Regions from separate parts of the Homo sapiens genome. Here regions 1, 2 and 3 are each reported to be linked to region 4. Evidence: microRNA targets listed by miRTarBase, many of them from high-throughput screens and not tested one by one. Region 4 holds a microRNA gene; each other region holds the end of a gene's coding sequence.

Evidence for each region. The annotated mature microRNA hsa-miR-2114-3p reads CGAGCCUCAAGCAAGGGACUU and lies in region 4 at 1,888-1,908, opposite strand. An mRNA with a match to its seed (bases 2 to 7 or 8) in the 3' UTR can be bound and repressed. Matches are read on the target gene's strand: a 7mer-m8 pairs with bases 2 to 8, a 7mer-A1 pairs with bases 2 to 7 and ends in A, and an 8mer does both.
Region 1: the mRNA of FABP7 is a reported target of hsa-miR-2114-3p. The part of its 3' UTR that is shown has no 7-base or 8-base seed match.
Region 2: the mRNA of GLRX3 is a reported target of hsa-miR-2114-3p. The part of its 3' UTR that is shown has no 7-base or 8-base seed match.
Region 3: miRTarBase lists PLCD3 as a target of hsa-miR-2114-3p. Seed matches in the 3' UTR shown: 7mer-A1 at 2,025-2,031.

What each region holds. Positions count from the first base shown.
Region 1 is chr6:122,783,167-122,790,284 of GRCh38, reverse strand. It overlaps FABP7 (fatty acid binding protein 7), which reads right to left. Exons shown (of 4, transcript NM_001446.5): 4 at 6,211-6,568. The coding sequence ends at 6,518. It overlaps SMPDL3A (sphingomyelin phosphodiesterase acid like 3A), which reads right to left and starts at 1,027. Exons shown (of 8, transcript NM_006714.5): 1 at 827-1,027. The coding sequence starts at 938. RefSeq lists enhancers at 216-715, 716-1,217 and a silencer at 707-1,001.
Region 2 is chr10:130,178,551-130,185,668 of GRCh38, reverse strand. It overlaps GLRX3 (glutaredoxin 3), which reads right to left. Exons shown (of 11, transcript NM_006541.5): 11 at 5,997-6,327. The coding sequence ends at 6,277. LOC124902561 reads right to left here and starts at 5,556. Exons shown (of 2, transcript XM_047426136.1): 1 at 5,348-5,556; 2 at 1-1,801.
Region 3 is chr17:45,106,869-45,113,986 of GRCh38, reverse strand. PLCD3 (phospholipase C delta 3) reads left to right here. Exons shown (of 15, transcript NM_133373.5): 12 at 382-548; 13 at 730-865; 14 at 975-1,124; 15 at 1,283-5,028. The coding sequence ends at 1,371. It overlaps NMT1 (N-myristoyltransferase 1), which reads right to left. Exons shown (of 12, transcript NM_021079.5): 12 at 4,971-7,118. Among named protein-coding and RNA genes, the nearest start is that of MIR6784, 4.0 kb to the left of the region's middle. RefSeq lists enhancers at 327-1,191, 1,192-2,057, 6,627-7,118.
Region 4 is chrX:150,222,842-150,229,959 of GRCh38, reverse strand. It overlaps MIR2114 (microRNA 2114), which reads right to left and starts at 1,956; the gene lies at 1,877-1,956. RefSeq lists enhancers at 3,521-4,106, 4,107-4,694.

The sequences.
Region 1 (7,118 bases), not on the chromosome of region 4:
CGGAGGGTGGGTTAAACAGCATACTGTGGAAGCCCAACGCCGGCGTTTCAGATTCAGTAGGTCTGGGATGGGCTGGAAATTTGCAATGCTAACAATTTTAAGTGCGGCGGCTGCTGCCACCGGTCCAGGGCACACTTAAGAGAATCACTACTGTAACGGGCACTGTGTTAAGTGCTGGGAGTGAATAAAATGGGTCCCGCCCGCAGGAAACCTAGTGGACATCCAGGTGAAATGAAGTCCCCGTGAGTTCCACGGTAGACTAAGGGGTGAGTCTACCCGAGGGTGCTTTCGCGCTCTGGCTGGGTGAGTGGCAGAAAAAGCCACTGATCTCGGTCGAGCAAGACAGAAGATAGTGTGAGTCACGCTGAAATTTACTTCCCTGAGCTGGTGGGGAAACTGCAGTCCCCCTCCATTCAGGACCGATTAGGGGCCTCTTGCTGTGCTGGACATCGGACTCCCAGCTTCCTCTTCCCTTGAGTCCCGCAGCTTTTCCTTCCTTCCCCAAGGAACAAAACAACTGAGATGCAGGATGTAAACAAAAGCCAGGCTGGCGAAATCCGGCCGACGCGCCCTTGGAGCGCCCCCACCGGCGAGGGCATTTCCCCCGCCCAGCCCCGGCCTCCCGGCTGGACGCCCTAACGCTGTAGTCCCTTGGTCGCCCTCCCCGCGCCCACCAGCCGTGGTCAACGCCGGACGCGTCAGGGGCCCCGCTAGCCCGAGCCTCTGCCGGGGGCAGCTGCCCCCACGCACTTTCTCCTGCTGTGCGCAGGCGCCGCCGCTCCGCGCTCTTTGCCGGCTGGGAAGAGAAGGGTCGCGGACAACTCACCTATCGCCGGAGGAGGATTCCTGCCGCCTGCGGGCGCCACGGGCAGCCCGAGGCCGGAGCGGCAGTGCCAGGCAGTCAGCAGGCAGCAGACGAGTGCGCGCACCAGCGCCATGGAGGGCCGCGGGGCTGACCTGGAGGTTCGGGCTGTCCCGCAGCTCCACTCGGACCGTCAGGCCTGAGGGTGAGGCGGAGACAGAAGACGGCTGCGGGTGTAGACGTCCGACTGATCACGTGCAAAGGCAGATTCCGCAGCGAGTCAGTTCGCCTGACCTTCAGCTGCTGTTTAGCGATGATCTGTTCTCGTATTTCTTAGCGTCAGTGTTTGGCCTAGGAAGGAATGTACTTGTAGAAGCTCAAATTCCGACTCGTGTATCAGTGGTGCAGTTGATGTCAAACACTGACATACTGGTGCTTGGGGATAGAGAAAGACATTCAATTTAGTAAAAGCCAGAAGGAGGGAGAACAAGATCTCTCAAATCCGTGTGTAAAAAGGAAAAAGCAGGGAGTTTTTATTCTGCTAGAGAATAAGAGAGGGGGATTTTCAAAGAATCCAGGGGAAAAGTCTGTTTCTTCAGTCTCAGATAACACCTTTGAGCAATTAGACGTCCAGGCATCCGCAGCTGGTTGCAAAGCCCTTGGAGGTATTCATCCCTTCTGCAAACATTTTTGTGACCCTGAAGTTAACCTCTTTGTTCTTGACGAGGAAGCAGTACCTCAGCAGTTTATAATTATATTGTGGAAACAAGGAGAATATTGGGCAAAAAGCGAGTGGTTAAAATGTGCAAGCAAGCAGGAGCCTGATCAGAATTTTCATTATTTCAGTCACTAAAAAATGCTGGGGTGCTGAAATCTCAACGATCCCGGTTCCATTCTTGGGCCAACCTACCCCAGCTTTAATGGGTAGGGCTCCTCAGTAGAGGTGATGCAGAGAGCCCTGAAGTATCATGATTTGAAGGAAATCAGCAAAAGTTATGGATACTGCAGTGGATCTCGAATTGAAGTCTCTGAACTGGGAACATTAGCACCACCTGGGAACTCTAGTTAGAAATGCAAATTCCCAGGCACCACCCTAGACCTGTTGAGTCAGAAACCTGCTGGAGCCCAGCAGTTTGTGTTTTCACAAGCATTTCAGGTCATGTTAAAGTGATTGTGATGTTTGAAAACCAATGCTCAAAGATACGACGTTTTGTTTTTTGTTTTTTTTAAACTGCCGGGAAGAGAAGGGTCTTAGAATTAGAACATGTTCTGAAATCATGCTTTATGCATTCCAGAGATGCATGGAAATCATAAGTAGAGGTGGTTGATTTGATGCTTCCACGGAACTTTTTTGAATATACTTCTGGCAAAGAAGTAAGTCTATACAAAGAAGTAAGCAAAGATAAGTCTGGCAAAGAAGTAAGTCTATACAAAGAAGTAAGCAAAGATAAGTCTGGCAAAGAAGCCAGAATCCCGAAACTGTGCTGGATCCTGTATTCTGTGTTCCTTCTCTCACCGTTTATGAGGATGCTGATCTCTTGGAGATGACAAGCTAATAATTTAAATTTATAGGGCGTGGAATTCCTTTGCAGAAGAAAATGCTTTCCATAATTACTAACCTCAAAAAAGATGTTGTAGAGTGTATTTCTTTCCCAGCATAGAAAGCTTTGTTTTGTATCCCATGTAATTTAATGGGAGTGTGTGTCATGAAACGGGCTTTGAAGTGGGAAGCAAGGTGCTTCCATTTTCTGTTTTGTAAACCAAAAATAAAATTTGAAGGCCCCCCACAACCATCTGAATGGACGACCATCTGTATGGACTCTTTCCCCAGTCAGGGCACTCTAAAATTTAACCTGAAAGACTGGTTCAGGCCATGAAAAAGGGGATGGGGGGGTTGGACATGCGTAATTAACATCAACATAGACCATAAGTCTGATAAGAAACATTTAAGATCTGTTTTCTCTAAAGCCTGCTACGTGGAGGCTTCGTCTGTGTGACAAAATCTGGGTCTAACAACCCCTTATCATAACCCAGACATCCTTTCTATTGATAATAACTTTTTCAATCAACCAATTGCCAATCAGGACATGTTTAAATCTTCCTGTGATCTGGAAACACCCACCCCCCGCCCAGCTTCAAGTTGTCCTGCCCGTCTAGATCGAACCAATGTAAAAATCTTACATGTATTGATTGCTGTATCATGTCTCCCTAAAATGTATAAAAGCAAGCTGTATCCTGACCACCTTGGGCACATGTCAAGACCTCCTGAGGCTGTGTCACTGGCCCATCCTTAACCTTGGCAAAATAAACTTCCTAAATTGATTGAGACCTGTCTCAGGTACTTTTGTGTTACAGTTTCAAGTCCTGCCAGGGCAGCCGAAGTCCTGCTTCAGCTTTTGGATGATTCAAAAGCTTGCAAGAACCAAAGTGCATTCCAGTGGAGGACAAGATGGTCCCTGGAGTTTCTCAGTTCACAACCTCTAGAATATGGGAGAAAATGGAGCCAGAAAAAACTGGTGAGCTGGTGAGAGAAAACGACTGTAAGGATTAACAAAACAACTTAGGAGTTTTTAGTCCAAACATTTAAAGCTAGGAAAAGGATAAATTATAAAAATAGCTCTTTTCACTCCTTTTTTTTTTTTTTCCAATTTCAATATACTTTACTGGAAGTAACTGGTTGCAAAATAGTTTTTCAGTAAGCATAAAACAAGGCATACACATTTTGAAACTTAAGAAATGTTTGAAATCCTAAAAAGTACAGTATATTAAAATTAGTGGGTAGAAACACCATCCTTCTTTCTACTCACTCCACTTTCTTTTTTTTTTTCTTAATACTCACTAAGAAGCAAAAAACTACAGTGCCCCAACATCTCTACAGGCATATCTCAACCATGGGCATATATTTGTAGGTCTCCATGTGCCAGGTGTACAAATATGTCATCGTGAGTGTGTATATCTGGGTGAGGGAAATCACATGAAAGAAGAGCAGAAGCTTCACAAAACAGCCTTAGCTTAGTTTGTATCATTGAGACCTTCGTATCATTTCAGAAATGTTCTTCCAGGGCCTGTTGGTCAAATTGCCTTTGGTCTTGGTCATTTTTCCTTTCCTTTAATTATGTTTCTTAACTATGTTAAGAAACAAAACAAAGACGGCAAACCAGAAAAGTTAGTGCATTGACAGATTGACAGTGTGAAATAGAATTTGGTTTGAAGAAAAATGATTTGCGACTACCCAGAAAAACTTAGGAAGCAAACATGTTAATTATCTTCCCTCTTAAAATCATTTGTTCTACCACTGCAACCCTTGATCTTTCAGACCATTGCATCTTTGTTTCCCATTTAGGCCACCCAAAAACCTTTTCATTCTTCACTCTGGGAGACAGTTGTTATGGAAACTGGTGCCAGTGTTATTTGGCTTCATTTTAATGAGCTAAAGATAAATCTCTATCTTTGGCTTTGTATCTTTAATAAGAGAGAGGCCAGAATCTGGGCTTCTGGTAGAGTGTAGGCTGAAATCCAGTTGTTAAACAGCCCTCCACCAGAAGCAGAGATGGTGGCTGTCAGAACAGTTGGAGCCAACAACCTGTTCATGTTGTGTTTCATGCTTTTAAAGACGGGTAAACTGAGTGCAGTGGTATGTGCCAGTAGTCCCAGCTATTCAGGAGGCTGAAGTAGGAGGATTGCTTGAGCACAGGAGTTTGAGACTAGATTGGGCAGCTAAGCAAGACCCCATCTCTTAGGAAAAAAAAAAAAAAGAAAATTTTCTCATACTTATAGCTGTAAGTTAATTGAACATTTTTTTTTCTTTTGAGACAGAGTCTCTCTCTGTCACCCAGGCTGTAGTGCAATGACACAGTCTTGCCTCACTTTAACCTCCACCTCCCGGCTCAAGCAATTCTTCTAACTCAGCCTCCTGAGTAGCCGGGATTACAGAAATGCACCATCACACCTGGCTAATTTTTGTATTTTTAGTAGAGACAGGGTTTTGCCATGTTGGTCAGGCTGGTCTTGAACTCTTGGCCTCACGTGATCCACCTGCCTCAGCTTCCCAAAGTGCTGGTGCTGGGATTACAGGTGTGAGCTGCTGTGCCTGGCCAGTTAATTGAACTTTGAATTAATTTATAAAAACTTACTAAAACACAGGGCTGATTAAAAATGAATACAGTATTACATATAAGTGCTGAAATATATTTACCTCCCTAGCCTCCCAAGAGGCTAACAAAGAAAAGGAATGATCGGGGAGAATAAAATCTTGTGTTTTTGTTTCAGAAGAAAAGTTAGCTGAAATATTAATTTTGGAGAGGAAATAAAGAGAAATATTGCAAGATTTCCAGCTCTCAATATTATTTACTACACATGAGAACTTGGACATGCAAATCTAACCTTCAATTTCCTTATTGGTAAAGTAAAAATAAATAATACCTGCCTTCTTGCTAAACATTGTATGGTTGAGAAAATGTATAAAAAGCATTTTGTAAATGATGAAATATGTAAAATATTTGTTTGTTTGTATTTCACAAATTCAGACCCCAGCCAGATACAAACAAGTATTTAATTTGGTTTGGTCAACTCAATCACCTTCCCTTTCTTCTCCCCGCCCCGCTCCACCACCCCGAAATTTTGAGTGTCTTTATGCACAGCACTCCATTTGCACTCTCATTGACTTTATCCAACTCAGTTTAGTTGTCTGGAGAAACATTTTTTATAATCCAGGATAAAATTCACTCCCTTTCTCTATTGCCTTTCAATAAGAAATTTTGATTACATGATATTTTGATTATATTTACCTTTTAATAAGACATTTTGATATACATCATTTTGTTTCTTCAAACCGTTTCTTCTAAAGACACTACTTCCACCGGGCGCAGTGGCTCATGCCTGTAATCCCAGCACTTTGGGAGGCCGAGGCGGGTGGATCACCTGAAGTCAGAAGTTCAAGACCAGCCTGGTCAACACGGTGAAACCCCATCTCTAAAAAATACAAAAATTAGCCAGGCATGGTGGTGGGCACCTGTAATCCCAGCTACTCAGGAGGCTGAGGCAGGAGAATTGCTTGAACCCGGGAGACAGAGTTCGCATGACTGCACTCCAGCCTGGGCAACAAGACTGAAACTTTGTCTCAAAAAAAGGAAAAAACGACACCACTTCCGTAGCCCAACCCACTATACAAGGCTTCTCTGGGTCCTGGCCAAATGAATTTTACCATCACAGATTCTTCATGGAAGGCTCAACCAAAACTGTGGCATTTCTGTATTTTCTAAGGCTTTTGCTTATTTTTTAAATTAGTATTTTAAACAAAGTGCTAATTTTTTCAGCCTTACTTTATGCTATAAGAGTGACTATTTTACTTAAAATTGTCTAATATAGAATTCTTAGCCAGATTAATGATATTAGAAACAACAACAAAATTTCACGTGTAAGATTTTTATTCAAATTTGATTTACATTCCAAAAGAAATTATAAAATGTATTCACTTGTTTATAAAAAAAAGGGGGGGGGGGACAAAACTTTAATTCAAATTATAAAACATGATAAATTTTCAGATTAAAATTGGGCAAGTTGCTTGGAGTAACAAGTTTTTAAATCACCATTTTCCACCTCCACACCAAGGATAACCTTCTAATTAATGATCAGCCATGTTGTAATAGGATAGCACTGAGACTTGAGGAAACAGAAAAACTGAAGAGCTCTTCCAAGCCCCGACCAGGAACATTTTTATGCCTTCTCATAGTGGCGAACAGCAACCACATCACCAAAAGTAAGGGTCTGCAAGGTTCAAAAGATAATCAAATCTTTTTATACAGGAACTTCAGTCACCGAATTTTAAAGATCATCATATATGTGATCTAAGTATTATGCAAAAGAATGACATTTACAAACATTAAATGCTGCATAAGCATTTCACATCTTGAAAAGAGACCCTATATTGATATACAGTTTATGTCTCTGAAATGAGAATGAAGCAAACACTGGGATTAGCACTTTAGATTCAAGTCAAAAGAATTTCTTTAGCCTTAAATTATCAGGGTAATTGAGCAGATCAGGTGTGAGAAATGGAGTGTCTACGTTGTTTTCTCAACTATCTGCTTTAAAAGTGAATGAGTTTTATAATAGGTTTACATAACAGTTTTCAATTCTTAACCTAGATAAATTTTGAATAGCCATTAGAAAATCCAGTCATTTGAGCTGATGGTATTTGGAATGACTTGTTCCAAAATCAAGAGGAACATGTAAAGGTACAAATATTCTCCTTGTTTTGGTTGTCATGGTTTAGCCTATGTGAACGCAGGTAGGTAGGTGGATAGGATGCGGAACA
Region 2 (7,118 bases), not on the chromosome of region 4:
CCTTCTCTCCAGAATTCAAAGTAGTTACTTTGGGTGGGAATCCAGCCATATCCCCATGACTAGTTCTGGTTAATAGTCACTTTCTTTCTACCAGACCTTGCTCTTGTCAACTGGACTCTGTAACTGGCGAGCACCCGGATCTGAGGTCCACTACAGGAGCCGGCCACAAAGACATCCTCAACACTACTTTATCTGAAAATGGATCCCAGACCTTCATTCCAGAAGGGCCCTGCCCTGTACCTGGAAGGAAGAAAGCTACACACGGGGCAAGGCTTCCCCATCCAGTCTACGATTAGATCCTTCCCTTCTGTCCAATCACATTTCTGCACAGCCACCCACTCTTCGTTGAATCTGAGTGTGAACATGCAGTTTCTCTTGGGTTTTTATTTCTGAAGGCTCCTGTGTCACCTAAGTCTTTACATACATTTTATACTTTTCCTTGGTAATCTATTCTAGGTGTTGGCTGTGCCCCTTGTGATGGGTGAGGAAAGGCATCCTCCTTTCTGCCCCTACAGACAGGTGACAGGGCTCTCTGAGGGCATCCAAGCTCCTTCTGGCTTTTCTCCATTATATCGGGGCTCTTCCTTTTAAGCACAAAACATAATACAAGAGCATAAAAATCTATTTTAATTCTTTTAGAAATTACCACACATGCCTTCTTCCTAAATAGACAGCTCCCATATCCAGGTTACAAGCTTGGGCTCAACGACACGGCTAGGGGTTAAGGAACTCGCTCCTGGGGACAGCAGGCTGGGAGATGAGGGGCAGAGAAACCCTTACCTTACCACATGGCAGGCATCCCCCGGGCAACCCTGAACAAGGGCAGGCTCTCTCTCTAGGAGTTCATATGGAAATCTGTAACTTCCTCAAATAAAACTTGACTTTTTGAGAAAAGATGAACACTGTACCACTGACAACCATTTAGATGAATGACCGTGGGGAGAACAAGAAGGTCTTTTTCAGTCAGAATTTGCGGGTCCTGGCAATTAGGTTTTTTTGTTTTTTTTTTTTTTTCTGAGACAGGCTCTTATTTTGTCACCCAAGCTGGGGTGCAATGGCACGATCACTGCAGCCTTGACCTCCTGGGCTCAAGCAATCCTCCCATCTCAGCTCCCCAAGTAGCTGGGACTACAGGTGCACACCACCATGACCAGTTAATTTTTTATTTTTTGTAGATATGAGGTTTCGCCATGTTGCTCAGGCTGGTCTCAAGCTCCGGAGCTCAAGCAACCCGCCTGCCTCCGCCTCCCAAAGTGCTGGGATTACAAGCACGAGCCATTGTGCCCAGCCTGGCACTTAATTTGTGAAAGCCACACCATTTCTAACAGGAACATAAAAATACCAGGTCATTTCAGAAGCCCCAGACTTGGGCAACTCCACTCACTAACTTGCAGCGTGCTACCTCAAAGCCAGTGTGGCACGAGGCTTCAAGCACAGCACTGGGGCTGCGCTGACAGATCCTGGTTCAAATCCCAGCTCCCAGCCCTAGAACCTTACAGTGACCTAAGTGCACCAAGACTCCCTCAACGTGTTCTGCTGCAGCCAGTGAGTCAGTGCACGTGCCCGGCCCATGAGCTAACTGAACTCATGGCTTCTGAATCTGAATGTCTCTAAATATCAGACAAAGCTGTATGAAAAAAGCCCCCAAGACTCTGAAACCAGATGGGATGCCAGTTATAAAACTTGTCTTTAAAGTTACCCATCCTGGTGAATGAGGCATCAGGAAGCTACTGCAGCTTGTGTCTGATTCAGAAAGGTGGATACCTTTCCTCACCCATCACAAGGGGCACAGCCGACACTCCTATAACAAAAGAGATTAACAAGAGAAAAGCGTAAGATTTATTTAAGTCTTACGTGACACAGGAGCCTTCAGAAATGAAGACCCAAAGACTCAAGAGAAACTGTCCATATTTACGCTGATTCAACGATCAGTGGACGGCCGTGAGGAAATGTGACTAGACAAAAAGGGAAGGGTCTAGGTCCTCAAACTCAACATCTGAAATGTGTATAAAACAAGAATTCATCTGCAAATAATCAACTTACTTTTATTTAGAAAGGTTTGAATTTTGAAAAGTAGCAACTGTCAAATTTAAGAAAACTGATCTTAGGTCAGGCATGGTGGCTAGGGCCTGTAATCCCAACACTTTGGGAGGCTGAGGTGGGAGGATCACTTGAGCCCAGGAGATTGAGACCAGCCTGGGCAACATAGTGAGACTTCATCTCTACAAAAAAAAAAAATCAAAACACAGCCGGGCATGGTGGCACATGCCTGTCATCTCAGCTACTGAGGAGGCTGACGGGGGAGGATCTTGAGCCTGGGAGGTCAAGGATGCCGTGAGCCATGACTGCACCACTGCACTCCAGCCTGGGTGACAGAGGAGACCCTGTCTCAAAAAACAAAGGAAAAGAAAGCTGATTTTACTTTAAAAACTAAACCAGAAATCATGTTTCATATTGCAATCTTAAGCTTGTAACTTTTGACTGTCAAGATAGGTCTTATTTGTATAATTCTTTCCAATAAGGCAGATAATGATTACCAAGCGCTTAAAATGTATTACAGTTGTTTCAGAGATTAAACATTTTTAAGTTATTAAAATGAGGCTTTCTAATTATAAAAACATGCTATTTTTTAGTCTACTCCTCAGCAGACTTAAGACATTTTTGTAAAGAACGGAAATGGCAAATAACTTTTTTCCTTCCTTCTTAATGATCAATCCAGTGGGACCAAGGTGGACTTCCTGATGGTTCTGCAAGGCTCAGTGTTCAACAAAAAAAGGCAAAAACATGTAAGTCACACGTGGGCAAGGCAACTGAACCCACCAGGTCCTGTTATTTTATTAAGGAGCATTTACATTATGATAGCAAGTTTCAACACATTCATCAACAAGGCGGTCTTCAAATCAATCAGTCAACCCCCGGAGTTAGAAAGTAGAGTCATGAGGAAGAGCTGCTTGGCTGTAGGAAGTAGGGTTAATGCCCTCTAATCCCCGGAAAGGGGCAGACTGAAGCCAGAGCCAGAATCCTGGCAATTCACCAGTTTCTCATCACAGGTAAAAAGGCAACTGCATCCCACATAGCTCTGAGGGGGAGGCCTCCCGGGAGGGGCAAGCCTAAGGTTTGGGTGTCCCAGACCCTGGATGGAAGCCCCAGCTCCCAATCTGTAGCTGTGCCCTTGAGATAGCTGCTTTCTCCCCTCACCTGCAAAGGAGAATTCCACAAACTACCTAGCCTGTTTCACTGGTTTTTTTCTTTCCATTTTTGATCAAGAGTTTTTATTTTAAAAAAAAGTTCATTCCTGCAGGCTTATTTCCCCTAAACAGATAACAATTCCCTAAGAAGCCTTCCTACAAGGAAGGCACAAACACGCAAGTCAAGAGGAGTGAACAGCCCTGCCTGTATGAGGGCCTTTCTGGTTCCTATTCAACCAGCCTCTTCTAGAAAGGAAATTCTGACATTTGAGGTTTGGTTTCTAAGAGTTAACAGGCAAATAGATGGCAGCCCCCATCATCAAGAGCCTCCCCACAGCACCAGCTCTATCCTAAGCACCATGCAGCTTTAACCTGGCAGGATGCCACACAAAGCCCCACTACATACTCAAAAGAGCAGGCCAAGAAAGGGAGGGCAGGCAGAGCTGGCCACAGGCTCTGGCCAGGGTCCACGCTCCCAAAAACGCAGCAGTGCTTCTCGGAACAGAAATGTGTCCAGACATGAAAACCCTCCATACAAAGCCTGCCTGGAGGGTCCCTCCCACCACAAGCACCCAACGAGGCCTCACGTGTGGGACAACATCCAAATGACACATTGTCACCTTTCCTTGTGAACTGAACAGATTTCTCAAATTCAGAAAACAACTTTGTCTCTAGAATTTGGGGATCAGAGAGGATTTCAATTCTGATAAAACATTTCTACAAGAGCAGGCTCAATTATAAACCCATACGCAAACTCTCTTTTTGTTAGAAAATTCAATAGGGGAAGTTCAGCTGGGCTCAAGAATCTTACTTTACTTCCTAAAATACACTAATAAAATCAGATTAGGAATGGCCATCAATCCGTTTGCATGAACAAGATGTCTTGACCTTCCCCATGTCTGGCCAGAAACAACTAGAAAATAGAAATATGCTGCACTGTCACCCCAACTTACCTGGAGTCAGTGGAGCCAAAGACCATCAGACTTTAAGAGGATAAAATAATATAGGACACAGGGGCAACTCCCCAAAAACTCTCAACACTCATCCTGACTCAAACCAGGATGGCTCAACAAAGGATAACGTCACTGATATCTTATGTCCTGCAGGAGTCAACCAAAGGGAAAGGAGGTCTTCCTAAAATGCACTAACCACATGACATTATCAGAGCAACGGCCTCTGGCCAGAACAGTATTTCCCAAATTGGAGGCAGCCATTTATGTTAAAAGTTGTGCATTTTATTTATTTGTATGTGCATTAGAAAAAAACAGGCTTACTGAGTCTGTGATGCCAAAGATATTCTTGCTTAGGATAAAGTGAAAGTAAAAGTTGACTTAGAAAATATACTAGGACAGTTGGCACTTAGAGAAAAAGCAGTATGCAAATGAATTAAGTTTGAGATAAGTATACCAAAAAAGTATGGAGCCCTCCTCCATGACACACATCCCTGCGGCCAATGGCTTCATAAAATTTCAGTAAAAATTCTATTTCTATCTACATTTAAGAAGTTTTACTTATACAATGATTTTCATTTTAAATAGAAACAAGGAAGTTCTCATGGACCAATGCTATAAACAGCCTTATCTAATTACACAGAATGCCAAGAGACTCCACCATCATGGGTGTCCTAACACCTAGCAGGAAGCAAGGCCATGTCGAGCTTTATGACTTGTACAGACCACCCTCTGTAACACACAAATCAGCACTCTACTCTTTACACAATCAAAACAGAGAAAAACAGCCTGAGCTGAAGAGACAGCAGCAGTGTGGAGGTGGTGGGCTAATCTTACCTAGGAATAGATGCATTTCATCCTGTTTATTCTTGTCTGAATTACTGACTTCTGTTTCCCTTTCCTTATCGCCACCAGACAGTACCAGCATCTTAACTGCCCAAACAAACAGGGTGGGGTAATATATGAAGAGAATGTGCCACAAGTACAAAAAAAACTAAGAACCATGAGGTGAATTTAGCCATCCCATTTGAAGCCTGCACTGTGGAAGCCTAGTGGAGCAACTATTTTTCAAATATGTTAGATTCAGGATCAAAAATATTGTTAAAATTTTCATGGACTTCAAACTGTTCTCAATAGGAGGACCAAAGGAACCTGAACGACCAAATCAATGTTTATTATAAGTAAGTGGACCAAGTGTGGTGGTCCTACCTGTAAATTCCAGCACTTTGGGAGGCTGAGGCAGGAGACCTCATCTCTACAAGAAATAAAAAATTAGGTGGGCATGGTGGTGCACGCCTGTGGTCCCAGCTACTCAGAAGGCTGAGGCAGGAGGATCGCTTGGCCCCGAGAAGTCGAGGCTGCAATGAGCCATAATCGTGCCACTGCACTCCAGCCTGGGTGACAGAGCCAGACCCCGTCTGAAAAAAAAAAAAAAGTAGTGATGCTTACAACAAATGACAATACTTTTCCATTCTTTGTCATGACTACCCATTCTTCTAGACCTTATGAAAAAAGTGCTTGTTGTACCATATTCAATGAGAAATCATTTTCCTCTTAAATGTTTCTTGATAATTCACTACTGGTGCCTTGTGAAATGAGTCTCTAAACCTGCAGACATCCTACACTGCCTCTGCAATGTAACCAGTGCCGAGCTCAGCAATGACATCAGAAACTAATTTCCGTTGTTTTTCCTAAGCTGTAAAGAGATCTTTCACCAGCGAGGGGAGCCATTGTGTTGGCAAAGGAGTTGTCCTAAATACTGTTGTGTACTGCATTCCGCCACAGTTCTCCATTTTCTGAAGACTGCCTTTCTTAACTGCTAGAAGATACTCATGTACTAAGAAAAAGAGATTTAAGGTGGGTTAATTATAGTAGCTGTATGTTTAATACTGCTGTAAAGATACACTTTTTTCATACAATTATTGTTAATAATTTGAAGATGTTTATTGCATTCTATTTTTGGTGGGAAAAAAATGTAACATACATTTATTTAGCACGACATTGTGAAATACACAAAACATGTAACTGAGAAAGCAGGAATTTTCTATTCCTAGTCCATTTCTGAGGACTAAATCATGAACTGCTCCCAATGTAATTAAATATTTCTTACAATAGTTGGGCACCAAGTTTAAGATTTATTAATTTTCTCCTCTCAGTATAGGCAGCAATTCACCATTTTCTTTCAGTTCCTAAAAATAAAAAACAACAATAATAATATGTATATGCATATATAAAAAGATGGAAACATCTAAACAATCACAGCTTGTATGTATATCTGAGAACCAAAAGAAACACCTATTGGATTAAAACTCCAGTCTCTTAACACTCTCAAACTAAATGAGCCATAAACCCTGAATACACTATCAGGTTAAAAAATTTAACAAGGTATTCTTGGCCAGGTGTGGTGGCTCACAAATGTAATCCCAGCACTTTGGGAGGCCGAGGTGGGCAGATCACTTGAGGCCAGGAGTTCAAGACCAGCCTGACCAACATGGTGAAATCTGTCTCTTAAAAAATAAATAAATAAGGCTGGGTGCAGTGGCTCATGCCTGTAATCCCAGCACGTTGGGAGGCCGAGGAGGGCAGATCACCTGAGGTCAGGAGTTGCAGAACAGCCTGGCCAACATGGTGAAACCCCGTCTCTACTAAAAATACAAAAATCAGTTGGGCATGGTGGCGGGCACCTGTAATCCCAGCTACTCAGGAGGCTGAGACAGGGAGAATCTCCTGAACCCGGGAGGTGGAGATTGTAGTGAGCCAAGATCGTGCCATTGCACTCCAGCCTGGGCTAGAGCGAGACTCCATCTCATTCATTCATTCATAAATAAATAAATGAAGTTAAGGTATCCTAAAACCAACAGATTGTTTAGTATTAGGAAACGCAGCAACTGGAGCCAATGAAGCCCCTATTTAAACTGTAGCAATAAATAAGGAAAATAAATCAAGTGACTTTCAAGGTTGAAGAATGAAGTAATGTGGC
Region 3 (7,118 bases), not on the chromosome of region 4:
AGTCCCACTAAGTCAACACTGACAAGGGTGGGCTCTGGGGGACGCTGAGCCCCACCAAAGGAGGGCTGTATCGTCTCCTTGGGGTAAGGATGGAAACCCCAGGCTTCCTCAGACCCCTGGCTCTGACCCAAGCCTGGCCCTGAGGGTGGGGGCTTTTTTAGTACCTCCCACCCCAGTCTTGAGGGATCCCAGGGCAGAAGTACAGGTGACAGTGGGGGCTGGGTCCATGACCCCCTCCCCTAAAGTCATGGTGGGAGCAGAGCAGCACTAAGCAGACAGTGGGACCCCAGGCCCTTTGTAGAGAGGAATGCAGTCCCCTGAAACTGAGTAGTGAGAACAGGGCCGCTAAGAGCCCCTGCTCTGACCCTGCTGTGTCCACAGTGGCCTTGAACTTCCAGACGCCAGGCTACGAGATGGACCTCAATGCCGGGCGCTTCCTAGTCAATGGGCAGTGTGGCTACGTCCTAAAACCTGCCTGCCTGCGGCAACCTGACTCGACCTTTGACCCCGAGTACCCAGGACCTCCCAGAACCACTCTCAGCATCCAGGTCAGCAGGCTGGAACGGGCCCCAGTGTGGGGTCAGACTGGTTCTAGAAAGGCTCTTTGTGAGGTGGAGGAAGGCAAGGGAGGCTGGGGACATTTGGAAGTGAGGGTGGTGTGAGCTTGAGGCCCATGAGGGGATGGCCAAGGTGGGCGTGGGCCCCAGCCACTCCCTCCCTCACCCACAGGTGCTGACTGCACAGCAGCTGCCCAAGCTGAATGCCGAGAAGCCACACTCCATTGTGGACCCCCTGGTGCGCATTGAGATCCATGGGGTGCCCGCAGACTGTGCCCGGCAGGAGACTGACTACGTGCTCAACAATGGTGGGCAGCCACTGGCGGAAGTGGGGTTGGGGGAGACTGCAGAGAGCGAAGGGTGGTGCAGGGTGGGTCCTGGGGCCCCTGGGCTCTGACTGCCATCCCTGTGCCCTAGGCTTCAACCCCCGCTGGGGGCAGACCCTGCAGTTCCAGCTGCGGGCTCCGGAGCTGGCACTGGTCCGGTTTGTGGTGGAAGATTATGACGCCACCTCCCCCAATGACTTTGTGGGCCAGTTTACACTGCCTCTTAGCAGCCTAAAGCAAGGTTGGTGGAGGCTGGTGGGGATGGAGAGGGATGTGGGTCCAGGTCCTGCAGACCCTGTTCACCTTTGTGCCTCGAATTTCCTGCCCTGAAGCAGGCCCGGGCTGGGCCAGACCCCCAGGGTGCACAGAGGACCTGAGGCCTGGCTGTCCTCCCTACAGGGTACCGCCACATACACCTGCTTTCCAAGGACGGGGCCTCACTGTCACCAGCCACGCTCTTCATCCAAATCCGCATCCAGCGCTCCTGAGGGCCCACCTCACTCGCCTTGGGGTTCTGCGAGTGCCAGTCCACATCCCCTGCAGAGCCCTCTCCTCCTCTGGAGTCAGGTGGTGGGAGTACCAGCCCCCCAGCCCACCCACTTGGCCCACTCAGCCCATTCACCAGGCGCTGGTCTCACCTGGGTGCTGAGGGCTGCCTGGGCCCCTCCTGAAGAACAGAAAGGTGTTCATGTGACTTCAGTGAGCTCCAACCCTGGGGCCCTGAGATGGCCCCAGCTCCTCTTGTCCTCAGCCCACCCCTCATTGTGACTTATGAGGAGCAAGCCTGTTGCTGCCAGGAGACTTGGGGAGCAGGACACTTGTGGGCCCTCAGTTCCCCTCTGTCCTCCCGTGGGCCATCCCAGCCTCCTTCCCCCAGAGGAGCGCAGTCACTCCACTTGGCCCCGACCCCGAGCTTAGCCCCTAAGCCCTCCTTTACCCCAGGCCTTCCTGGACTCCTCCCTCCAGCTCCGGAACCTGAGCTCCCCTTCCCTTCTCAAAGCAAGAAGGGAGCGCTGAGGCATGAAGCCCTGGGGAAACTGGCAGTAGGTTTTGGTTTTTATTTTTTGAGACAGGGTCTCGCTCCGTCGCCCAGGCTGGAGTGCAATGTTGCAATCATGGCTCACTGCAGCTTTGAACTCCCAGGCTCAAGCGATCCTCCCATCTCAGCCTCCTGAGTAGCTGGGACTACAGGCACAGGCCACCAAACCTGGCTAATGTTTAAATTTTATGTAGAGATGGCGGGGGGGGCGGGGGTCTCCCTATGTTGCCCAGGCTGGTCTCGAGCTCCTGACCTCAAGTGATCCTCCTGCCCCAGCATTCCAAAGTGCTGGGATTACAGGTGTGAGCCACTGCCTGGCCTGGCCGTAGGTTTGTAACTGTTTCATAGAAGAGCCCTGGAGAAGACAGTAGAATGAGCCTATCTAGTTTAAAAAATAAAGAAGCACGTTGATTTCACCACCGCCACTCCCTGAGCACCTCTATGCTGCCACCCCCACAGGCCCATGAGGAGGGACAGGGCTGGATGAGTTTCTTGGGCCTCTCCCCTCAACAGGGCATGGACTTGGCTAAGACAGCCAGGGGGTGGCAGCAGGAGATGCCACAGCTCTAAATAGCCCGATCCCTGCTCCTGGCTTAAAGCTGCTGCGAGTATCACAAGACTGTCTGAGGATGCCAATTCAGCAGGTCAGCGCCTCCCCACAACACACACACACACACACACACACACACACTCACACATACACAGAGGGGCCTTGAATGAGGAGGAGACAGGAGTCTGAGGGACCCTCAGACTGCCACTCTCCAGGCTTGGCTGGGCTCAAGGCCCCTGTCTGCTCAGTAGGGCAAATCCCAAGGACACGGGCTTCCCTTCCTCCAGCCAGCCAGCCTTTTACACAAAGGCTGGAAACGCTGCTTGGGCCGCCTCTATAGAAATGCCAGGAGAGCGCACTGGACACTAGGCGACAGAATCTGGAGAAAATCCTGCACCCGCCCCTGCCAGCAGGGTGAAATGTGGAGGCCTGGTGTTTTAGGTTCTGCCAGCCAACAGTGCCGGCACTGGACAAGGGCAGAACTTGACATTAGTCCCCAGAGGGTGGCCTGGAACTGGGCTGGGATAGGCCTTGAACTGGCCCCAAGCCCCACAGAAACCAAAACACAGGGCTGGGGCAGACTCCACCTTCTAGCAACTCCAAGAACTAATGCAGAAAGTGGCAGTGTCCCCCGCTCCTTCATGCTGGGAGTGGCGTTTGGCTCTGGTTAATTTGTGTGTCTGAAAGAGGATAATCAGAATCAAAAGGGCCCAGAAGGAATGGGCCGAGCCAGGCGGGCCGGGCCAGGCAGCCCGGGCATCTGGCACTCAGGGCTGTCAGAGGGTCAGGCTGCCAAACTGCAGCCTCAGGATGGGAGGCACAGTGAGGCTAAGTCCAGTTTTAGCAAATGAAGAGCCATTAGCATTGCCCAGCCCCTGCAGAGCCAGGTCTGGCCAGGGGCTGGCTGGGGGGTCTGGGTCAGGTGAGCACCAGACCCAGGGCTGAGTGCCCATCCTGCTTGGCTTCTCTGGTTTCGTATCTGGTACCAAGAGGAAGGGGTGAAGGCTAGGATGAGGGCCCAATACTGAGAAGGCTGCCTTGAAAGGGCAAGAGTCTTTTTTTTTTTTCTTTTGAGACAAAGTCTTGCTCGTCCCCCAGGATGGAGTGCGATGGCGTGATCTCGGCTCACTGCAACCTCTGCCTCCCGGGTTCAAGCGATTCTCTTGCCTCAGCCTCCGGAGTAGCTGGGATTACAGGCGCCCGCCACCATACCCAGCTAATTTTTGTATTTTTAGTAGAGACGGGGTTTCACCATGTTGGCCAGGCTGGTCTCGAACTCCTGACCTCAGGTGATCCACCCGCCTTGACCTCCCAAAGTGCTGGGATTACAGGCGTGAGCCACTGCACCCAGCCAAAAGGGCAAGAGTCTTTAAGGAAGTGAACTGGGAAGCAGAAGCAAGGGAGAAATCACAGGGTTTTTTTTTTGTTTGTTTTTTTGAGATGGAGTCTCGCTCTGTCGCCTAGGCTAGAGTGCAGTGGCACGACCTTGGCTCACTGCAAGCTCCGCCTCCCGGGTTCACACCATTCTCCTGCCTCAGCTTCCCAAGTAGCTGGGACTACAGGCGCCCACCACCATGCCCGGCTAATTTTTTTGTGTTTTTAGTAGAGACAGGGTTTCATAGTGTTAGCCAGGATGGTCTCGATCTCCTGACCTCGTGATCCACCCGCCTCGCCCTCCCAAAGTGCTGGGATTACAGGCGTGAGCCACCATGCCCAGCCTGAAATCACAGCTTTTTATCCCAGAGGCCCATGGGTAGAAACAACACATAGGGCTATGTTCTCTCAGCCCAAAGCTAAGGGCAGGAAAAAAGGCATGGGCCATAGGAGCCTGAGTGACTTGGTTTGGGACAGGAGGGTTGGGGGGCTTTAGAGGGGTCAGGCAGGTCCTGTGTCCTCTCAGTTTCCCTGGAAAGGGGCTTGGAGGCACCAGTCATGGACCTGAAAGGATCAGGGGGTCAGGGAATGGGTAAGTTCCAGAGGATGAGAAGAGGGGGAATGGGAAGTCTTAAACACAGCTACTGGGGCCCAGCAACTTGCCATGTTAAAATGCACCCCTAGTGACTCAAAGAACCACCCGGCCAGTGGTGCAGGAGGAGAGATGTGGCACCTGGGCACAGTGGGAAGGCACGGGGCCTGCACCTCCACCAGAGGAGCCACTGCTGACCTGGACCAAGGGGGCTGCTCTGTGCCCAGCTAGGGAAGCCTGGGCCGGCTCCTGTGCTGAGGTGCTCAGGTGCTGGCTGAGAGCCCAGTTGCTGCTCTAACTTGGAGTGAACCTGGGTCAATAGCAGCTCGTCTCTGGCGGGTGGGAAGGGTCTGACAACACCAAGTTTGCCCTGGAAGAAGGGCAGCCTTAAAGGAAGGCCTTTGGAAGCTGGCCTGGTGCTGTGGGCTTGAGGGACTTTGTGTCCAAGCCCTGTCGTCCTGGCTCCAGCCTAGGCTCCAGCACTCCATTTCTTCCACTGCCACCTGCTGACCAGGAATACCAGGACAGAAGGTTTTGTTCAGCTGCTTTCTTTATTAGAAACAAGTGAGATGTATTGAGCAGAACAACAATGCATTTGGTATTTCCTCCCCGACCCTGGAAATGGATGCCCCCCCACAGCCCAAAGAAAAGCCAAGACAAAAAGGTGAAGCTCCCCCGTCCCTGTTCCCAGACATGGCACCTGCCTGCCAGCCAGTCAGTATTTTTTAATTTAATGGAATGAAATTGTCCTCAACAGCCTCCGTAGGTGTAGTCGGCTTGCAGGCCCGCCTTCATTTTGCAGCAGAGTAAAACTGAAGCCTCAGGCCTCCCCTGGTTCTGGGGAAGGTGGGCCAGGCCATCAGAAGGCTGCCTCACAGGTGGGTAGGCACTGACGGGAGGGACACTCCTGCTCCCTCCCCTGATCTAACATCTGGTTCCCCTCCTTCTCCTAGAGTGCAGCTCCATGCAGTTGTCCAAGGCCTTTGGGCCCTTAGGTTGGTTAAATGCTGGTCGTCTTTGGGGAAAGAATTCAGGACCACAGGGACTCCCCTAGGCTTCTGAGAGCCAGCAAGTAGGGGGGCGACAGCAGTTAGACAGGAGTTGTGGGGAAGGCCTGACATTTTCCATAAACCTGGTGTTAAAGTAGCTGGGTGTGGGCTGGCCTTCAAATAAGACAGAAGCCTCTTCAGAAATAGGCATGTGTGGGGAAACGAGCCCTATACAGGCCTCGATCCGGAGTGGAGGCCTCCTACTCAGCTCTCTCCCTACACACAGACTGGAGTCCGTGGTCAAATGCAGAGTCAATCCAAAGGCAGGAGGTAAAGGTCGTCTTTGAAACATGGCAGCTGGGAGGACTGGGTGGCAGAGGGTGGGGGCCAGGCCCAGGGAGGCCTTCCAACAGCAGTTGCTCGAGGACGGTTAGCGTGAAGGCCTCAGGGTCCTTCCTTTGCTTGGTTTGAGACAGCCATGGCGCTACCACACTGCAGGGCTCCTGTGGGGAGGCCCTGACCCCCGGGATGGTGCTCTCTGAGCTGAAGTCCCAGAAGGGGTTGAATGAAGAACGCAGGGACTACTGGGACAAAAATCAGATGAGCAGCAAGCAGCCCACAAGCCAAACCCTGCACACCTGGGCAGAGTTCTCACCGCAACATAAAGCAGAGTCCGAGGAGCCGGCCACCTGGTTTCAGTGAGGGAGATGCTGGGGCCTTTGCCAGGAGATCTGTTTCTTCCAGAACAGCCACTGGGGCCTCACCGTTTCCATTCCATGACCTGGGTCAACCGAAACAGAGCTCACTCCAGAGATCCGCACAGCCCAAATCTCAGAGGCAGCTCAAGCTGGGACCTGGCCCAGAACAGATCAAGACTAGGACAGGGAGCCTTTCCAAGTTCCAGGTTCCCCCAAGGTAGGAAAGACTTGGGCACTTTGTCCTTTGATATCCTCAAAGGTCTGGACAGGGTGAGCCACTCTGGGGCTTGAGGCACTGTGCAACTGTTGTCTGTGGGGCTGCAAAGCAAGCCCCTGCCTCTCCGACTCCTCCCACCTGTGGAATGCAGTGCGCATCTTGCTAAGAACAGCAGCTTCTTTGGTCTCAGTTTCTTGGAGTCAAGGAGCAAACGTCAGTCACGATTGCTGGGGCCTGCAATTTGCAGCGCAGGAACAATGGGAAAAGGGAGGGCCCTGCAGGCCCCTGATGAAAATCCACCTTAGTGGAGTTGCTGGCTCTAGCAGCAGTCTGCAGAGCGGGCAGCATTCCCACGGGTGGCACGGCCCCCATCCCAAGCATACGATGTCTTCTGGTTTTGGAAACTCTGCAGAATTAGCCTCTGACAAACCACACCAAAACCCACAGCCTGCAACAAGCCCCTGCTGGCCTGTAGAAAGTGGCTTCGGTGAGTGGCACAGGGCTGAGCCTGGCCTCCTGGCTAAGGCTTCATTCCTGTATGAGCGGAGAGGTGACGGCAGCAAGGAAACCCGCACACCACACGTCATGCTACCTCCTTCCCACCACTTGCTTCTCTCTAGAGCAAAAATTACATCCAAGCCTGGAAGTACAATTTCACAGCCCAATTTTGCCCGGTCACTTGGCTGAACACCACTCCAGAATGCCTACATCGACAGCCATGTGACCAGAGGCTTGATTACGTTTTGGGAAACTGGCAGCACTGACAACCATCACTA
Region 4 (7,118 bases):
AGGGGTGGGAACATCAGGTTCAGAAAAGGTCTTTCTGCTCTCAGCTTCTCACAAGCTTAACTGAAGCCCCCCGCCGGGGTGATAGAAGATATGACTTCCCCTGAGTTTGGTAGAGGCAAGCATTTCCCTTTGAAAGCTTGTTGGTCATTGGTCATCTCCGTGGTCTCTTCTAAACCCCAAGAGTCATCCAGGGCCATGCACCCAGGGGCTTTTTCCACCTCTCCATTCAGAGCCTTTGATGCCCCTTACACACCTCTTATCAGCTGTTGAACAAACTGTGACCTGTCTCCAAGAATGCTGGCCAGCTGAGGCTGACAATGGGGCTTGGCCAACCAAAGTGATATGGATAGCAACTGGCAGAGGGCCAGGATGGCATAAATGTCAAAAGGTGCTTGCACTTGCTGCTGTGACTGCTAGCTGTGGTCTTAAGGTATCTTGCAGAGGAGGGGGTAAAGGATGGTCCCAGAGGCACCAAAAGGGGCAACAAGCACAGACATTTTTAACTGCCACTCAGAGAACAACAACTCTGTGCCAAGCCCTGTGCTGAGGGCTCTACACTCACAATCTTCTTCATATACACATGGGTCTCACTGAAACCATAACACAGCAGAGTGGGAAGGGATATTTTAACCAACTAAGGTGTTCACTTGCCAGTGCCTGGGATCCAAAGTCAGCATAGCCACTCTATACGCTCAATCATTGGGAGAGGGTAGGAGGAGCCAGTTGGCTTAGTGACACATTTAACTTGGAGTACATTCATCAAGACATGCCTGGAAAAGGCCACAGAGGAAAGGCTCCAGAGAGGAAGATAGCACTGGGTGACTGAACTGAGGGGACCACAGCTTCATAAGAAGGGCAACAAGAACCAGGCTCAGCACTTATTCTGGTGTTCACTCAACAGCATACAATGTCATCACATTCACTCTCTTACTGGAACCTCCTAGGGCGCCCAGGAAGTCAGCAGGGCAGGAGTCTTCTCCCCTCTGAACAAATGAGGAAAGTAAGGTTCAGAGAGGTGAGGTGACTTTACTTGCCAAAGACCTATTACTGGTATGGTAGGCTAAATAATGGCCCACAAAGATGTCCACATCCTAACCCCTGGAACCTGTGAATATGACTTTATATGGCAAAAGGGACTTTGTGTATGTAATTAAGTTAAGGATCTTGAAGTGAGAAGGTTGTCCTAGATTATCTGGGAAGGCTGTGAATGCAATCACAAGTGTCCTTATAAGAGGAAGGCAGAAGGAGATTTGGCACAGACAGAAGAAAAAGGGATGTGATGACAAGAGCTCCATGTGTATATCAAGGATTGTGAGTGTAAAGCCTTCAGCACAGGGCTTGGCGCAGAGTCATTCTCTGAGTAGCAGTTAAAGCAATCTGTGCTTGTCACCCCTTTGGTGCCTCTGGGACCTCCTCCGCAAGATACCTTAAGAAAGAGATTGAAACGATGTGCTTTGAAGATGGAGGAGGGGGTGATGAGCCAAGGAATACAGGTGGCCAACCTGAAAAAGGCAAAGTAATGGATTCTCCCCTCAGAGCCTCCAAAAGCATCCAGCCCTGTTGACACCTTGATTTTAGGCCAGTGAAACTGATTTGTTTTGGACCTCTGACCTCCAAAAGTATAATAGTAAATTTGCATTGTTTTAAGCCACTATGTTGGTGGTAATTTGTTATAACAGCAATGAGAAACTGATCCATCTGGTGAGTGGCAGAACTGGGACAGAAGCCAGTCATCTCATCACCCAGGCAAAGGCAGACGCCATCATCTGCTTCTTGGCAAAGTTTCCCAGGGCCTGGATAGATGTGGGAGTGGAGGATGGGAGGACTTCAATAGGAGGCAATGATGGTTCGGAAGCAGGAAGCTAGCTGCTGGAAGCCACCAGCTTGAAGTCCCTTGCTTGAGGCTCGTCATGTGATTATCCGACCGCTTCAAGGAAGGGACTAGGAGCATGGAGGCAGAGGCCTGTCTTTGGCCCCAGAAGCTGGGACGTTTGATCCATTGCTGACTGGGTGAGGGTCCTGCTGATTGAGATGGAGAGTCCTTAGAGGCAAGACTGGACCGATGACTTCTTGAGGTGCTTTTCAGCTCTCAGGTTCTGTCAGTCCCTCTTCATGGAATCCTAGGTGCCAAAAGCAGACCCAGGAAGCCTGTGGCCCTGATAACCCAAGGCAACCTCTGTCTCTCTAAATGTTCCTGTGGAACCGAGTAAGCATAATCCCAGAGGGCAGTTTGGGACAGCTCACACCCTTCCAGTGGCGGTGAAAATTGGTCATTCCCCTTGGAGAGAGGAGGCGCTCTTGGCAATTTTCCAGAGCTCTACCCTCCTTCCTTTGTGCCCAAACAGCTGTGGGCAGATCAGGCTGGGGGTAGAAAGGAATGAATTCTATTTTCTTCCCTCCCTGAGGTACTCCATGTGGTCACAGAAGGCTGCACAGGAAATATAACGGTTGACAGACGTGCGGTGTTTTGTGATGTGAAAATTAAAATCACCAGGAAATGTTCACGTTCTCTCTCTCCTTCTCTCCCCCCCTCCCCTATCTTCCTTCCTCTGAGCCTTTCTCTCTCTCTGTTCTCACTCTTCCTCTGTTGCCTTTTTCCCCCCAGTTCATTTTAAGTCCCTCAAACTTCCTACCTCCAAGAACAACTCTCTAGTTGAGGCTTGGACTTTACAACTTTCACAAATCACTTTGAATCCTTAAGGTGCCTACAGACCTCTCAGTTTGAGCAATTATGGGAGGGAGAACAAAGAATCAGGGTGGGCGAGCTTCCAGCCACCACTGCCATAAAGTTAAGTGACAACTGTTCACTCCCAAGCCTCTGAGTCTGGACAGGTTTGAAAAATTTGTTTTAATCTCAAAAATCTATTCCCAATGAGCAATTAGAAGCCATTTCCTTGAGCTCTTACTATATCCCAAACTTCGGTTTAGTTAAATTTTGTGAGGTTCAAATTTTGCACCTTGAGACTCTACTTTTCTCTAAATTTCACAATTTAGGGATAAGGGTCTGTTTGTATTCAGCACTGATTGGAATGAAAACATCATTGAGCTTGCCAAGCTGAGACCTGGAATACCACAGCATGAGGTTCATATGTTCTGAATGAGCAGGTTTCAGAAAGCTGAGCACTTAGATGGTGAGGCGTGTGACTTGTAAGATGTGCTTTCTGTAGGGACACAGGCCATCCCCACCGCTGCACCTTCAGCATCTGTAAATGGTACAAGGGCTAAAGTACTTGCACGCAGGCATTTGGATTTTCCCCTGTGTATTATTATTGGCGTTATCTAAGGCAATGTCCCTATCTTACTTCATAGGTCAAGAGTATCCCCAGGGCCACCCAGCAATGCCTAGGAATGAACTCCTAGAATGAAAAACACTTTGGGAGATTCTTCTATCAACCTTCCCTTGTTCTATAAATGTGGACACTCAGGCCTGAAAGAGGGGACAGGCCCTGCAACTTGAGATGGCTCAGCAGGACTGGGACTCAGGTCTAGCTCGTACTCTCCACCCCAGGCCTAGATACTTGTCCACTGTGACTACCTCCGGGAGCCAGGTGCCAGCCTGGGAGGAGCCATATCTGTTTTGGAGCAATTGCCCCGGGCATAGCAAAGAAGGGGGTTGAGTATGAGATAGTATAAGGATGGCATGTATCCTTTGGTAAACAACAAATCTTGGGGCTGGAAGGCTGGTCAAAAGTCAGTCTGGAGACTGGTTTTCCACAACAGAACGTGCTGCGAAAGAGTTGTGGGCAAAACTCGGTTTTGAAAATTGAATCTTTAACCCCCCTGGGTGCCATCTATTGCAATCTTATGAGAACTACTTTTGTGAAGCAAAGGGTCTTCTTGTAATGCAAATTTCCACTCCCTAATTGGCCCGGTGTGTAACTTCTATGCCTTCAATTGCTGAAGGGGGCCAAGCCCCTTTGACACCGGTTTTTGTTTTGGTTTAGCACAAAGCAGGTAGGAGGTAGGGTCAACTCGCACCTCCCTAATGCTGCCGCTGCTGCCTCCGGGCGGGAGAAGACCCACCTGGGCTCCAGGGCAGAGCTGGGCCAGCTTATCACCTCCCCTTCATCGCCCTGTGGAGGTCTGCTGCAGAGTAGTTAATCGGGAAGCTGGGAGTGCAGGTGGCACTCTGTGCCACCTGGAGCCATCTCCGAGAGAGTGCCCGCATCCTCCAAGGCTGGAGAGGAATACCAATTGCACGGTTACTGGGCCCCCTCAGGAGCCCACAAGAGGAAATTAAAAGGCATACACACGCCTGGAATAAAGGACCCTCTTCTTGCAGCTAATCACTGAAATTGGTCACTGGGTTGTCCCCTCCCCCCTTTGGTGAAAGACATGGTCTTTCTCTTGTTCTGTTCCATCACTGCGTTCTTAGAAAAGTGTGAGGAGGGGGGCTAAGCTTTGCACGGGCATCCTCCCATCCCCGCCCTCAAGGTCTGCCTTTCTCTCAGAGTCCTGGCTTTTCCCAGCATGGGGGGCATTTGTTTGTCCTGTCTGATGCAGGAGAAAGGTCAATCCCAGCCCCTAGGCTATGCAGGTGGGAAGAGTGGCCTGGCATCTCTTAAGACTGTCTCCTGCATGGCCCTTTGCAGGTTGTAAAATGCTTGCACTCCCCTCCCTGTATGGGCTTCACAACCTCATCAGGGCTCACAGCTGCTATTTTACCTTGAGGGCATGGTCTAAGGTGACAGACATGGTCCTCAGGATTTGAATCCAGGACTTTAGCTCCAAGGCTAGGATAAGCTCTTCCCACCCTCTGTGCTTTAGGGCCCACTGTGGCCCCAGTCCACTCGGCAATGGGAGAGCCTGTTTGCATGCCCTTAGCAAAGCCTGTGGAGCCCTGAGGGCAGGGGCAGGAAGATGGCCTTGGGGCTGCCAGGGAGATGCCTAGGAGGTTTTGGTTATTAATTAATTAATAACACTGTGTCCCAGCAGTCAGGCTGGGCTGGACCTATGGGAGATGCCCTCTAGATACCTGCTGAAAGCAAGCAGGAAAGAGCATGAGACTTACTGTCTCCTGCGTGGGAACAGGGGGCGGTGCTTAGTTTCCCCTGCTAGGCCAGTAAAAGGCTTGGGTCACCTGATGGCCAAGGCCCTGTGCCACAAGTTCTGGAGACCTGATACAAGCTGTGGTCTTGCTTCCCACTGTGGCCATAGGCACGTAGCTCCATGAGTGTTCTGAAGAGGCTCAGCTCAGGGAAAATGCAGGTGGCTGGGCCTGAGAATCTGGGGTTGACAAGAAAACCTAATATTCATACTGTAGTATATTGAATGGTGGCCCCACAAAGATATGTCTACCTGGCACCTGTGAATATGACCTTATTTGGCAAAAGGTCTTTGCAGATGTAATTAAGGATCTTGAGATACCATCCCAGATTATCCAAATAGGCACTAAATCCAATGACGTGTCATTATAAGAGAGTGGCAGGAGATTCAAGATACACAGGGAAGTAGGTAAGGGTGAAGATGGAGCCAGAGGTTGGAGTGATACGGCCACAAGCCAAAGGAACACCTGGATCCACCAGAAGCTGGAAGAAGCAAGGAAGGATTATCCCCTAGAGCCTTCGCAGGGAGCTTGGAACTGCTGACACCTTGATTTCTGATTTCTGGCCTCCAGAACTGTTGGAGAATAAATGAATAAATACATTTCTGCATCAGTGAATAAGTTGTCACTGTTTTAAGCCACGAAGTTTATGGTAATTTGTTACAGTAGGCACAGAAACCAATACAAAATAGCAACAATACCAAGGAGAGGAGGGGAAACAGGAAGGAGGAAGAGGAAGATGAAGGAAGAAGGATAAAGTCTTATTGACCATCCACCAAGTGCCATGCAGGCACTGCCCTACCTGCCTTTAGAGTGTGATCCCATTTGATGGCTATGACAACCTTGTGAAGCAGGTACTTCCCTCACTCCTGTTGTACGATGGAGCTGGCTCAGACATTCAGCAGTGAAAGCCTGGTTGCTCAGCTAGGAGAGGTGGAACCAACTGAGAGAGAAGCCCCAGTGGTGGGACTCCAGGCCTGCCTTGCTGAGCGGGCTGCTAAGGGGGACCCAGCTAGAGCCTGGACAAACAACAGGATTTAGGGAGATGCACAAGGAGCACTCAGTCTCTGGGGCTTTAGGAGAGAGAGGTCACATTTCTGACCCAGAGCTGGCCTTTCAGGAATGGGACATGGCTAGCCTAACCCAGCTCCCCTGAGCCCTCATAATAGAGCTGGCCATGGAAAACGGAGCTTCAGGCACACACAATGATCCCTGCTCAAGGCGGATCCAGACCTGGAGCTCCCCTGCCGACTGTTGTTTCTTTCCTGGGTACAGGTCTCCGTAACCTGCCAGAAGCCTGGGTATACCTCTGCCTCCCATGTTCCTTCTCTTTTCTCTCCACAGCCAATCTGGTCAATTCCCTTCCTGAGCATTTCTCTCACGCGGTGCACTCCATGGATGTGGTGGTCCCTTTCCTTTGTCTCCCATTTGCACACACAAGCATTTCTCCTGCCAGAACAGAGAAGCATCACATTTTGCTCTTGGTTATAACATGATCAGAGTTGGGAACTGGGGCTATGGGGGCAGGGAGGGGGCAGGAGGAAGACTGTTGCCTGTGACTGACAGACAAACTGGCTGTGCTAGCAGAGTGACTGGCCTCACCGCAGGCCTTTGTGGGTCGTGAGCTGGGCTGCAAGGAGAGGGTTTTCAGAGCCGCATGCTTTCCTCACCTGTTAATGCTGTGATGCACGTCACTGTCAACGGGTACCTTCAATGCCATGTTGCTGATTCTCTCTTTCTTCCTGAAAAACTATTAAATTATGTGCAGTTTATCAATCACACCATATTAAACTCGAGGGCACACAAACTTGACTGTGGCTGTATTTGCTGTTGAAGGCAGGTCCTGTGGTACTTAAGGCTGTTCTATGCATTTGGAGCAGCTGATTATCTTTTGCAATGGCCAAATACACCCATAGCTATTATTTTTTCCCAAAAATCTCTCTTATTGAAATCCTTGCAGGGAAAATGACTTTTTATTGCAAGTAAGAATTCTCTAGTCCCTAACCCTTCACTGTGCTCTTGGAATATAATGCTTGACAGTGGGAGTTGTTGAGGAGCCCAGTAGTCACATCAG